Linked DNA regions of Homo sapiens. The protein of the gene in region 1 purifies or fractionates together with the protein of each later gene. This does not show direct contact. Each region holds a gene or a part of one and is shown in the gene's direction. Other genes may lie near its edges.

Evidence for each region.
Region 2: the proteins of CTDSP2 (region 1) and PRR14 purify together in Homo sapiens (affinity purification with mass spectrometry; 3 studies listed by BioGRID and IntAct, with this or other methods). This does not show direct contact.
Region 3: the proteins of CTDSP2 (region 1) and ZC3H3 purify together in Homo sapiens (affinity purification with mass spectrometry; 3 studies listed by BioGRID and IntAct, with this or other methods). This does not show direct contact.

What each region holds. Positions count from the first base shown.
Region 1 is NC_000012.12:57,826,199-57,829,842, reverse strand, and holds part of CTDSP2 (carboxy-terminal domain RNA polymerase II polypeptide A small phosphatase 2), read left to right. Parts: intron 1-246; coding exon 247-395; intron 396-2,252; coding exon 2,253-2,291; coding exon of another isoform or gene 2,292-2,309; intron 2,310-2,745; coding exon 2,746-2,847; intron 2,848-3,440; coding exon 3,441-3,497; intron 3,498-3,644. UniProt on the Homo sapiens protein: Preferentially catalyzes the dephosphorylation of 'Ser-5' within the tandem 7 residue repeats in the C-terminal domain (CTD) of the largest RNA polymerase II subunit POLR2A.
Region 2 is NC_000016.10:30,649,439-30,653,182, forward strand, and holds the start of PRR14 (proline-rich protein 14), read left to right. Parts: upstream 1-1,521; 5' UTR 1,522-1,689; intron 1,690-2,157; 5' UTR 2,158-2,207; coding exon 2,208-2,230; intron 2,231-2,357; coding exon 2,358-2,526; intron 2,527-3,282; coding exon 3,283-3,404; intron 3,405-3,475; coding exon 3,476-3,665; intron 3,666-3,744. UniProt on the Homo sapiens protein: Functions in tethering peripheral heterochromatin to the nuclear lamina during interphase, possibly through the interaction with heterochromatin protein CBX5/HP1 alpha. Might play a role in reattaching heterochromatin to the nuclear lamina at mitotic exit.
Region 3 is NC_000008.11:143,468,312-143,471,955, reverse strand, and holds part of ZC3H3 (zinc finger CCCH domain-containing protein 3), read left to right. Parts: intron 1-3,296; coding exon 3,297-3,339; intron 3,340-3,415; coding exon 3,416-3,574; intron 3,575-3,644. UniProt on the Homo sapiens protein: Required for the export of polyadenylated mRNAs from the nucleus. Enhances ACVR1B-induced SMAD-dependent transcription. Binds to single-stranded DNA but not to double-stranded DNA in vitro. Involved in RNA cleavage.

The sequences.
Region 1 (3,644 bases):
AAACAAATGCTCTGTGGCTCAGGTCTCCCAAGCCAGAGAGTGGGGATTCCTGACATTCCTGCTTTAAAGAGAAAAGGCTGGAATAAACATGTATGTTTGACTGTTAACTGTATGTGGTTGTTCACCAGCCGTATACTGTGTGCCCTAGTAGAGTTTACAAACTAGAAGAGCTATGGGCATGGTAGTATCTGTGGACAGAAACTGATGTCCCTAGAGCTAAAGCCTCTGTCATTCTCTCCACCCTAGGCCTGGTCTCCAAGTCCTCTCCTAAGAAGCCTCGTGGACGTAACATCTTCAAGGCCCTTTTCTGCTGTTTTCGCGCCCAGCATGTTGGCCAGTCAAGTTCCTCCACTGAGCTCGCTGCGTATAAGGAGGAAGCAAACACCATTGCTAAGGTAGGTGGGTTGGGGTGGTAAGATGCCAGCAATGAAGGGACTGTTAATGGGAGATCCCTGCAGACGATGGCAACCGGACAAGGAAGCTTTGCCTGAAGTTGCAAAGATTTCTGGCTGAGAGGGGGCCCTTCCTCCATCCTTCCATAAGTAGTGTATTTCCTTTCTGTTCCTTCCCTTTTGCGGTGTGGGCCATTCACATGTCACTGTGGTTTCTGAGGGCCCCTGTGATCCTGATCCTTCCAGGTTCCAGGAACTAGGCAAGGTGCTTTGCATATATTGTCTCATGTGATCCAGCCAGCAGCCCTGTAAGGAGATCACAGGATTCACACTTTGCAGATATGGATTTATGTAGAGGGTTTATGTAGCACCTGAAGAGTTCATGGTTAATAAATAGTAGTGTCAGGATTTGAACTTAGATTTCTCTGGCTCTAAAGCCTGTGTTGTTGTTCTCAATTATGCAAAGCTAACTTCCAAGTTACCTGAGTTACAGGGAACCAAGGAATTGAAACTCTACCATGCTGTTAATAACTCCTGTCAGCAGTTCTCTCCCATACTCATGCAAGGCATTTGGGATTTTGTGGGTATTTTTTATATGTCTAGTATTTCACAGGTGGGGCCAGCCCCGACCAACAAAAATTATTCTGCCCCAAAAGCCAGTGGTACTTCTCTGAAACACTGAGGTCTGGTTGTCCTTCCTTTTTCTCAAGACCAGGCTGAAGACATACATCAGTGAAAAATCACTGCATTTTGCAGTAGGGGAAATGGTTAAATAAAATACAACATGACAGTATTACTGAGTGATTAGCTTTTACAGAGTTCTCAATAACATGGAGAAGTATTGAGTTGCAACATTAAGTAAAAAGGCAGAGTGTGTAATTGTATAGCATTCTGGAAAAAGTCTGCGGACACAGATTTGAAGGCAGTACACTGAATGCCACATTGTTTATCTAAGTGCTAGGATTTTAATTTTTCTTCAAAGTTTTCATTAAGAACACTTAAAACCATAACTTTTTTTTTTTTTTTTTTGAGATGGAGTTTCGCTCTTGTTGCTCAGGCTGGAGTGCAATGGCGTGCGATCTTGGCTCACCGCAACCTCCGCCTCCCGGGTTCAAGCGATTCTCCTGCCTCAGTCTCCCGAGTAGCTGGGATTACAGGCATGTGCCACCACGACCGGCTAATTTTGTATTTTTAGTAGAGACGGAGTTTCTCCATGTTGATCAGGCTGGTCTCGAACTCCTGACCTCAGGTGATCCGCGCGCCTCGGCCTCCCAAAGTGCTGGGATTACAGGCATGAGCCACTGCGCCCGGCGGTCATAACATTTGTATTAGCAAAAATTGGGGTGGGGGGCTTGCTGATCTCTCTGCACTCCCTCCCCTCACATTTTGGGTACCTACAATGTGGCTTACTTGATGTTTTATAGGGCTTGTTCCCCCACATAACCCCTAAGGAGGGCATGGAAAACAACATGTTCTCAAGGAGAAGCCTGAGTTTAAGGACTTAGCGAGAGTTTGCCACTGTGAGGAATTCAGACTTTGGTTCTGCCTCTGACTCTGTGTCCCTGAATCAGTTACTTGAGTTCCCTGTTCCTCACTTTGTCCAGTTGAGAGGCAGTGGCAGCCGAGAACAGGGACACTTGTCTTCTCCATCCTTCATCAGGCCTAATGTGGAAAGGAAGCTCTAGCCTTTCCCTTTTCCTGCCCCACTCCTAGGAAAAGTCACTTTTGACATGGTAGGAGCTTCCAGGTGGCTGGGTCTGGGGGAGAAAGTTGCCCTCCAGGCTTAAGACAGAAGCAGTGGGTTTGGATGGGGTGGGAAAGGCAGTGAGATGGCACTGACCACCTCCTTCTCTTCCTCAGTCGGATCTGCTCCAGTGTCTCCAGTACCAGTTCTACCAGGTACGTGACTCTGGCCTGGTAAGTACTCAGAAGCCAGGATCCTGTGATCCCTGCCAGCTCCACGGGCAGGGTGATGTGCATAGTCCTTGGTGCCTAGCCAGCCACCTCCCTGACCTGGGAAGCCATTTGTTCCCCATACTTGTTGAGGGCCTGCTATGTGCAAGGCATTAGATTTTAGGGGACAGCTGGTGCTCCATGCCCTCTTCCCACAGCTGCTGTCCATCCCACACCTGCCCTGGCCACCACCTCCAATGTCCAGATCACTTAATAGTCCCACTGGGAGGCTGAAACCAAGGAAACAACTCCACCTCCTTTCTTCCTGGCCTTTAAGTGGTGCCTATCCTGGGTTGGTGATTGTGTCTCCACAAACAACCCAGCTCTTCCCATAATTATGCCAAGGGGTACAATTGGGCTTTCTTGGTAGGCAGATCTCAGCAACCTGGCTTGGTTTTAGATCCCAGGGACCTGCCTGCTCCCAGAGGTGACAGAGGAAGATCAAGGAAGGATCTGTGTGGTCATTGACCTCGATGAAACCCTTGTGCATAGCTCCTTTAAGGTAACTCAATGTCTGGAACCCTTCCTACCTTTATCTTGGGCCTTCTTGTGAATCTGGCAACAGATGTGTAAGGCAGCCTAAAGGTGAGGAAAGAAGAGTGATTAGAAGGGAAAAGGCCAGGCCTCTGGCATTTTGGCCACCCTGTGTCACAGGTATCTAGAGGCCCCACTGAAGAATGTTGAGTAGGAACCCTGTGTGTTCCACCAGGGCTGCTATCTCCAGTCACTCCCAACAGGCTGCATCTGCCCCCGAGCCACATAGCACAGAAAGCCAGCCACGAGGGCTCTGTACAGGGCAGGCCTAAAAGAGTGGTTGGATCACCTTTGGCCCTTGCCCCTGCTTGTCTCCTCAGGAAACTCAGGCCCCAAAACTCTCAGCCCAGGTAGAATTTGTCAGAGTGGAGGTGCTAAGGAGTAGGGAAAACCAGAATGGGGTATCACATCTTGAACTAGGGTGAGAACCCCTTAATGAGGTGGCCAGAGGCACTTCCAGGAGTCTTTAAGACCTGTTTCTCCCCACCCACCTAGGGGTATGGTGGGGGCCTCATGTTTCTTTGCCACCATGCTGACAGCATTAACTTTTCTGCCTTCCAGCCAATCAACAATGCTGACTTCATAGTGCCTATAGAGATTGAGGGGACCACTCACCAGGTGAGCTGCCAGCCAGACCACACCCAGCCCAGAGGGTGGGGGGTCTGCCTTCTGCCTCACCTGTACTGGGGTCCTCCACCCATCTCAGGGCTTGGGTTCTGTCAGTTGATCCCTTTTCTATAACTCCAGCCTCCCCTTTTTATTGGT
Region 2 (3,744 bases), on another chromosome or scaffold:
GGATAACAGGTGTGAGCCACCACACCCGGCCCTGTTTTATCACTTTCATCACTCAATCCCCTGAGAATTATGACACCTAAACCAGGAAGCACCTCTGCACCTTATCTCGGACCCAGGATTCTAGGCTTCAGGGTCTCTCGTTCTGTTAAGAAAACAAAATAAGGACTCGTGCTGGGCGCTCACGCCTGTAATCCCAGCACTTTGGGACGCTGAGGCGGGAGGACTACTTGAGCCCAGGTGTTCAAGATCAGCCTGGGCAACATAGCGAGATCCTGCCTCAAATTAAAAAAAAAAAATTAAAAAAGAAAAGAAGTACTGGTTTGGACCAGGGAATCTGGGGAAGGAGAACTAGTGCAGACATGGGCTTTGGTTAAGCGGTCAGGGCACCTTCATAGCGCTGCAAGAAGCCACTACATGCCCACTTCCTCCCCACCAACAGCCCAGCTTCCAGTAAAGGGTCCATGACGCAGCTCCTCCAAGCAGCAGCGTCCCACCCTGATCCCTTACTCCTCAGGACTATTTACACCTCCCCCATCCTGCGGGCCCCACTTGAGACAGTGGTTCCTGAGAGCCGGGCCCCACTAGCAAGCCAAGGTATATTCTTGGCCTCCTGCAAAGATGCCCCTGTCCTATAGACCTCTGCGCGGACCGTGGGCACCCCCACTTCTCCAGGAAGAAGTAGGTGGGCAACACTCAGGGGAAGTCAAGCTTAGCGCCCCCAGTCTCCTCCCCACTTCGGCTCGGTCCCATCTCTCCAGGACAAGGCGCCAGCAACGGAGCCACAGGCCGCACCAGCCCGTCTTTGATCCCGGGTGTTCGGACTCAGGGCCTCCACCACCCCCTCCTAAACTCGGACCCTGGGCCGTGGGAACCCAGTTTAGGAACCCAGGAAGATGCCGGAACCTTCCTCAAACGAGGCCACTCTAGGAAATTGGGAATTTCACATATCGTTAGCACTCAGTCGACGTTTATTGGCCTAAGAACGAAAGAACCGGAAGATGCCCTTAAAAAGCGTGGCGGCACTCTAGCTTCAATCGGTTGCCTCAACATATCAAGAAACCTGGCATTGTATATGGCCCTCAAAAGATGACGCCACCCGGTCCACCACGGTTCAACGAGGACTAAGACATCTGCCCTCAACCATCATGGCGGCGCCACTCAGTTTGGCTTCCTGCCCCTAGGGATGATGGCCGCCAGGTGGCTTCACTTAGTTTCTCACCACCCCGGAAGACGGGGACCGGCGATTGGGCGGTGTCCAGAGGCTCCGAGAAGAAGGCCATCGGCGGTTGGGCAGCGTTGGGTAAGCTTGGTTTTTAAAGGAGCCGGAGGTGGGAGCTGCGGAAGACCCGGGATCCACGGGAGGCGGCGGTGAGCAGCCCTTGGGGGAGGGCAAGGAGTGGCTGGAGAGAGGGCGGGAGTGGGGGCGGGGAAGGAAACTTCTGAACCATCTGGTCCCGGGCCGGGGGAGACCGCTGGGCGGGGACGCGAGGAGGGAAGGGGCGTCTGTGGGCGGGACCTCCCGGGATTGGAGTGAAGAGGGTATCTGCTTGACAGTGGATCCCTGGGGATCTACGCTGAGTTCGGAGATGCTCCAGCTCGGGCCGCCCCTGTCTGAGCGGAGCTTTGCGGCGCTGAAGCTTACAGGGGAAGGAAAAGCCTCGCCCGGCGTCTGATTGGCGGAACCGCGCTGTAGGATTCTTTCCTCAGGGATCCAGTCTAGGGGATCTGGTGGGATGGAGGGTCGTCGATGTATGGAGTATTGCTTTGGAGTCCTCGGCCACTCGCTGGGAGAGGAGGAGGATCGCAGAGGGATCCAGCGGAAATAGCCTCCCAGGACCGGGATCCCCGTGGATCCCGGGGGATCTCGGGGCATAATCTGCAGGGACAAAGGCCTCGGGAGGCTCGGGCCGCGGGAGAACTGGGGCCGCTGCATTCTGGGTTCTGGCGGCAGGTGCCAGGCAGGGCGCGAGTGATCCGCTGATCGAGGCGGTGGCAGCGGGAGGACACCCGCTCCGGGCGACCGGCCGGGGGCGCCCTTTCGCGCCCCAGGGCTGCGGCCGCTGGGCTACGGGGAGCCGCGGGCGGACCATGAAGGGCGGAGCCCCAGGGAAGGGGCCGGCCCTCACCCCCCGCTCCCCCGCTCCCCCCTTACCCCAGGCCGCAGCCTGGGATTCCCCAGGGACCCCCCCGGAGCCGCCGCGTCTCCCATGGACTTGCCCGGGGACTCCAGGTGAGAGCGTACCCGGGCGGCCCGCCTGTCTTGACCCCGGGAGATGGGGATCCTGGCGACCGTGCCGGGAAACTACAGAGCCAGCGACAGGTTCGGGCGACCGTCCTCTGCTTCTTTCACCCTCCAGCCCGCCTGGCCAGCCGCGTCTGTGCCGCCAGCCTCTGACTCGAGCATTATGGGGAGCCAGGAGCCCGAAACGGCCGAGGCTGCAGCTCCCGGGGGCCCCTTCTCCCCTGGAAAAGGCCTCTCGGCGGGTCCTGGCCGTGGTGCTAGAAGATGTCATGGCTGTTCACATGGTGAGCCCCCTGAACCAAGAGACTCTCTATTCCCCCATGACTTTCCTCACTACCAAACTCGGGCCAGATCCCTACTGAGGATAACTGAAGTCCAAATCCATCATTGTTGTACTCAGCCCTCAGGCAGCCTCCCTCATGGTAGAGTCCTGCTTGGCTCCCACTTACTCCAACCTAGAATTGGGCAGTGCCCATTCCACCCACCAACGATTTTGGGCTGGAACCACATCCCTGTAACTCTGAGAAACTCTTCTGCTTCTTTTTTTCTATCTTTTTTTTTTTTTTAGAGACAGGGTCTTGCTATGTTGCACAAGCTGGTCTCAAACTGGCATCAAGCGATCTTCCCATCTCTGCCTCCCAAAGTATTGGGATTACAGGCGTGAGCCACGGCGCTGGGCCGAAACTCTTCTGCTTTCTTCCCAGCCCAGCCTCCTTAGGAAGCAGGCTGAGGTCTTTGACTCCACTGCACAGATAAGAAAAACTGGCCCAAAAAAGGCAGTGACCCACCCTAGCTCACCCTGTCTTTTTCATTTCTCTAAACAGCGTGGATGAGATTACCCAGGTCCTACACCTGCAGTTTAGGACTCTTAATATCTGGCCCCTAATTCAGTCCAATTCATCTCTTCTCTTGGGATCCGAGTGAATTCTAGCCCCAATCTCTGTTATGTTTGTGGCTCAGGGCACTGTGAGGCACAGGGAAACCTTGTCCCGTCCAGCCTCATTCTATCACCTTGCTCTTGACACCTCTTTCTCTTCCAGGTCCCCGTGGTGCCCTCAAAGCAGACCTCCATACCACAGCACCACAGCTACCATCAGGATCCTGTCCACAGGCAGCCGCCTGCCTCGCCACCCCGGCAGGCCGGGTGGTCCTCGCAGGCCAGGTGAGCATGGCAGGATGGGGGTAAGCCGAGGGCCCAGCTGAGCCATTTTAATCTTCCTGTTCCCTCGCTAGGCCTCCCGACCCTCTGTGTTTGTGTCGCGAGCCCTTGAGCCGCATCCACCGGACCTCTTCCACCCTGAGGCGGCGATCAAGGACAACCCCTGGCCCAGAGGAGGGCCCTTCACAAAAGGTGGACCGGGCCCCCCAGCCCACCCTGGTGGTGATGCTGGAAGACATCGCCAGTCCTAGACCCCCCGCTGAGGTATGGGAACTGAGGGTACGGATGTCAAGGGTTCTGCTGGGTTCCAGCAGGGATAGAAGGGTAGGAGGCCTGAGTCTTA
Region 3 (3,644 bases), on another chromosome or scaffold:
GCGAGGCCACAGCTCCAGCTGCCTGGGCCACCACCGGCCCCGCCTCGCCATGAGGAAGGTAGATGGCTCCCAGCTGTGGGATACCGCTGACCAGCCCACTTAAGAGGAATAATAATTAAAGAAATAAATTTCCTCCCCTGGTGTCAGCAGAAATTTGACTTCAACAAGAAAGTGCAGCAGCCTTCTTGGAAGGGGTGGGGGTGGCTGTCCTGGCTGACCCCCTGGGCTCTGGGCCCCTGACGGCAGAGGACAGTATGGCTTCTACCCCCAGCTTCCCCAGTCCCTGAAGCCGAGCCCTCCCTCCTGGGCCCGCCTGCCACCTGAAGGCCTGAGCTCCAGGGTCCCTCCCCACAGAATCCTGTGTGGGCCCCCAGTGAGCATGGCCCATATGTGGCCACCATGAGCCTGATGGCTCCTGTGGTGGGGCAGAGGCCCCAGTCTCTGGCCACAGGGCTGGCCTTGGCTTGTTCTGTGTCCCCAAAGCCCCCAGCCACCTGTGGCCGTGGCCCTCCCTGCTGTGGGCCAGCTGCTGCGTGTTCCTGGCACGTCCGGCCTCTGCGCCTCCCCTGCTGGTCACCTGCCCACCCTCCCTGGGGTGACGAAGGCCCTGTCGGCTTGCCCCCGCCCCACACTGCCTCTTCTGGGGCACCCTCTGCCGCTGGCTGCCTTCTCCCAAGGGCACAGCCTCCATGTGCCAGACGGACGTGCCCTGGAGGGCCTGGTGGGCGCGCTGTGAGCAGACCAGGGCTTGGCGCAGCCCTGCCTAACTTCTTGGGAGAGTGCTGGCCTGGGAATTGGGGCTGCCTGCGTGCCCCGGTCATCGTGGATGTTGTCCCTTGGGCCAGGCAGCAGCTGTCCAGTGGGTGCTGGCCGGAGCAGGGCCTGGAGGTGCTGAGGAACCTCTGACTGCAAGGCCCCCACCCCGCTTGCCTTGCAGAGCCTGACATCCAGCGGTGCCCAGAGCTGGCACTGGGGCACCGAGCAGGGGGTGGGGCTGGTGGGAGCCGAGTCTATTCTGAGAAGATCCCGGGGAAGTGAAAGTTCTCTGGAATGCATGGCGCCTTCTGCTGTGGAGCTGCTGGGGGTTATTCAGTTGAACTTTTTAGCACTTCTCAGGCAGCCCTTGCTTCTTTTCCAGCCAGCTATTTTATGTGCATTTTTTAACACTGCAAAGCATTTGAAAAAGTGCCTCCTGTTCTTGTCAGAACTCCTGCCGTGAGCCTCACACTGGCATTTTTTTAAAGAGCACAAAGTGGAAAGGGAGGTAACCCCTCCTGCTGCACCCGGTCCTGCCAGGCGGGCACGTGATGCCAGTGTGTCCCTGCCTGGAGCAGATGGCGTCGCAGTGTCACTGGCAGCCTGGGCGAGAGACTGGGAACCAGCAGTGCCGACAGACCGCCGCATTGCCGCGTCCCTCACCCCACAGGCTGGCAGGTGTGAGGGCGTGCCCGTGCCGTCTGGACTGGGCCCTGCTGCCCACCCGGGGACAAGGGTCCCGGCCTGAGAACGGGGGCTGCCCTGAGCACCCCCGCGTTGGTCCCTCCGCACCAAGACCCTCATCACCCTCCCTTTGCCCCTGGCCCCCCACACGCCTCAGGTTTCTGCGTTCTTCAACGCCCCCTTTCCTGCCCCAGGTACCATGACTAGCTCCTGCTCCTGCCCCAGCCGGGCTCGCTGGCCACTCAGCTCTGGAGCTGCCCTTTTGAAACTTGAGACGGGCTGAGTGGGGACAGTAGGCAGGGCCCCTGAGGGTGAAGGGCAGCAGCACCACTGACCCTAGCTAGGGAGCACTGGGCTGGACGCAAAGCACAAAGCGAGGAGTGGGGGGGGCTCCAGCCTGGGGGTGCGAGGGAGCGGAAGCCTTGGGTCCTCGGGTGGGAGTCTGCGGCTGCTGGGCCATCTGGGAGAGTGAGGACGAGGCTGCTCTCTGGTGCTCAAGAGTGGGGCAGGTCTGGCTATTTGGGGCTGGGCGGCTTTGGGACATCCCTTTTTAAACCAGGATGGCTTTGTCACCACCTCAGGTCCCCAGAATTTCTGAGTGATGTCACCTCTGCCTCTTAACTGCAGTGTCCATTTCAGCATTTGCCCTGTAGGAAATTGGATCTGGTCTGGGAAGGATCATGCGCGTATTTGAGGAACCCGGGAAAGCCGCCCTCAGCAGGCTGGTCCTGCCCTGCCCACCCCGTGATCCTGGGTGACCTCTGTCTGTAAAAGGCAGGCAGGGCTGTGTCACCGGAGCAGACCCTCCTCCTCCAGATGGCACCCCCTCCCCGCCTCATCCCCTTGGCTCTCAGGCCTGGCAGCACTCGGCCATGTCCAGCCCCAAGGTCCATTTCCTTCCTGCCACCACCGCACTCCCAGGCCGCCCTCCCAGGCCGTGGTGTGCGGTTTCAGAAAGGCGGGGGTGGTGCTTATGCTTGGGGTTTTGAGGAGCATCTGATGAGGCACCTCTAAAATTTAGAGTAACAGACACTAGCCAGGATCTGCCAGCGCCAGCCCAGGGCTTCAGGGACAGGTGCCCTTCCCCCAGACCTCCACAGCTGCAGTGGGCAGCTGGGCAGATGCCTCCGCCAAGCGGGCTTTGCCCCCACACCTTCTCTGCTGCATGTCTTTAGTTTTATAGCCCTCTAAAAGTCAGAAGCCATTCTTGCTCCCAAAAGGCCAGACCATGTGTGCCCCATGGGCCATATTCACCCCCTGGTCTAAGTGACCCCGCGGGTCCTGCCAGCCCAGGCCCTGGCAGAGGGAGGTGCTGCTGTTAGCAGCTGTTCTGTTTACAGGGCAGCTTCCTGGGTGGCCAGGGCTGAGGAGAGAGCCAGGAGCAGTGTCCATAGGCCAGTCACTGCCTTGGCCCAGGGTGGGCACCCAGGGACATGAGGAAGCCAGCAGGGGGGTTCCAGCCAGCAAAGCGTGGCCCTGGGGAGCCTGGCCAGGGAGGCAGCAGGGACAGGCGGGCGTCTCCAGCCCACGTGGCCAAGCCCTCCGCGGGTGCTGCCTGGCTTTGCTGGCTCTGAGGGCAGGGACAGGAGCCCTGCCCGGACCCTGCCCTGGAGAGGAGCTAGACACAGGGCCCAGCAGCTCCCCACTCTCAGGTGCTGTGTCCCCAGAGGGGCCTGGCAGGGCCCAGGGCATCTGAACCACTGTGGGGAGGGGAGCTCTGGGCAGTTTCCTGGAGGGGAGGCTGTGCCTGAGCTGAGTGTTGGGACCCCTGAGGGCCTCGACTAAGGGGGTCAGCAGGGAAAGGGCGTGCGGGCCAGGCTGTGGCCTGCTATGACCCGTGCCTCTCTCCCCCACAGGCCGGCTGGATCCTGCAGGCAGCTGTAGCCGTTCCCTGGCCAGGTAATGCCTTTGGGCTGGGCAGTGGGTGGGCTCCCTGCTCGCCCTCAGGCTCACGCACCTCTCTCCCCGTCTGCAGCCGGGCAGTGCAGCGCAGCCTGGCCATCATCCGGCAGGCGCGGCAGCGCAGGGAGAAGAGGAAGGAGTACTGCATGTACTACAACCGCTTCGGCAGGTGCAACCGTGGCGAGCGCTGCCCCTACATCCACGATCCCGAGAAGGTGGCCGTGTGCACCAGGTGCCCTCCTGCCCTCGCTGTGGGCCTGGGGGAGGTTCTGTGCAGGGCCCTGCCCTTGGTCCCTGCCGGC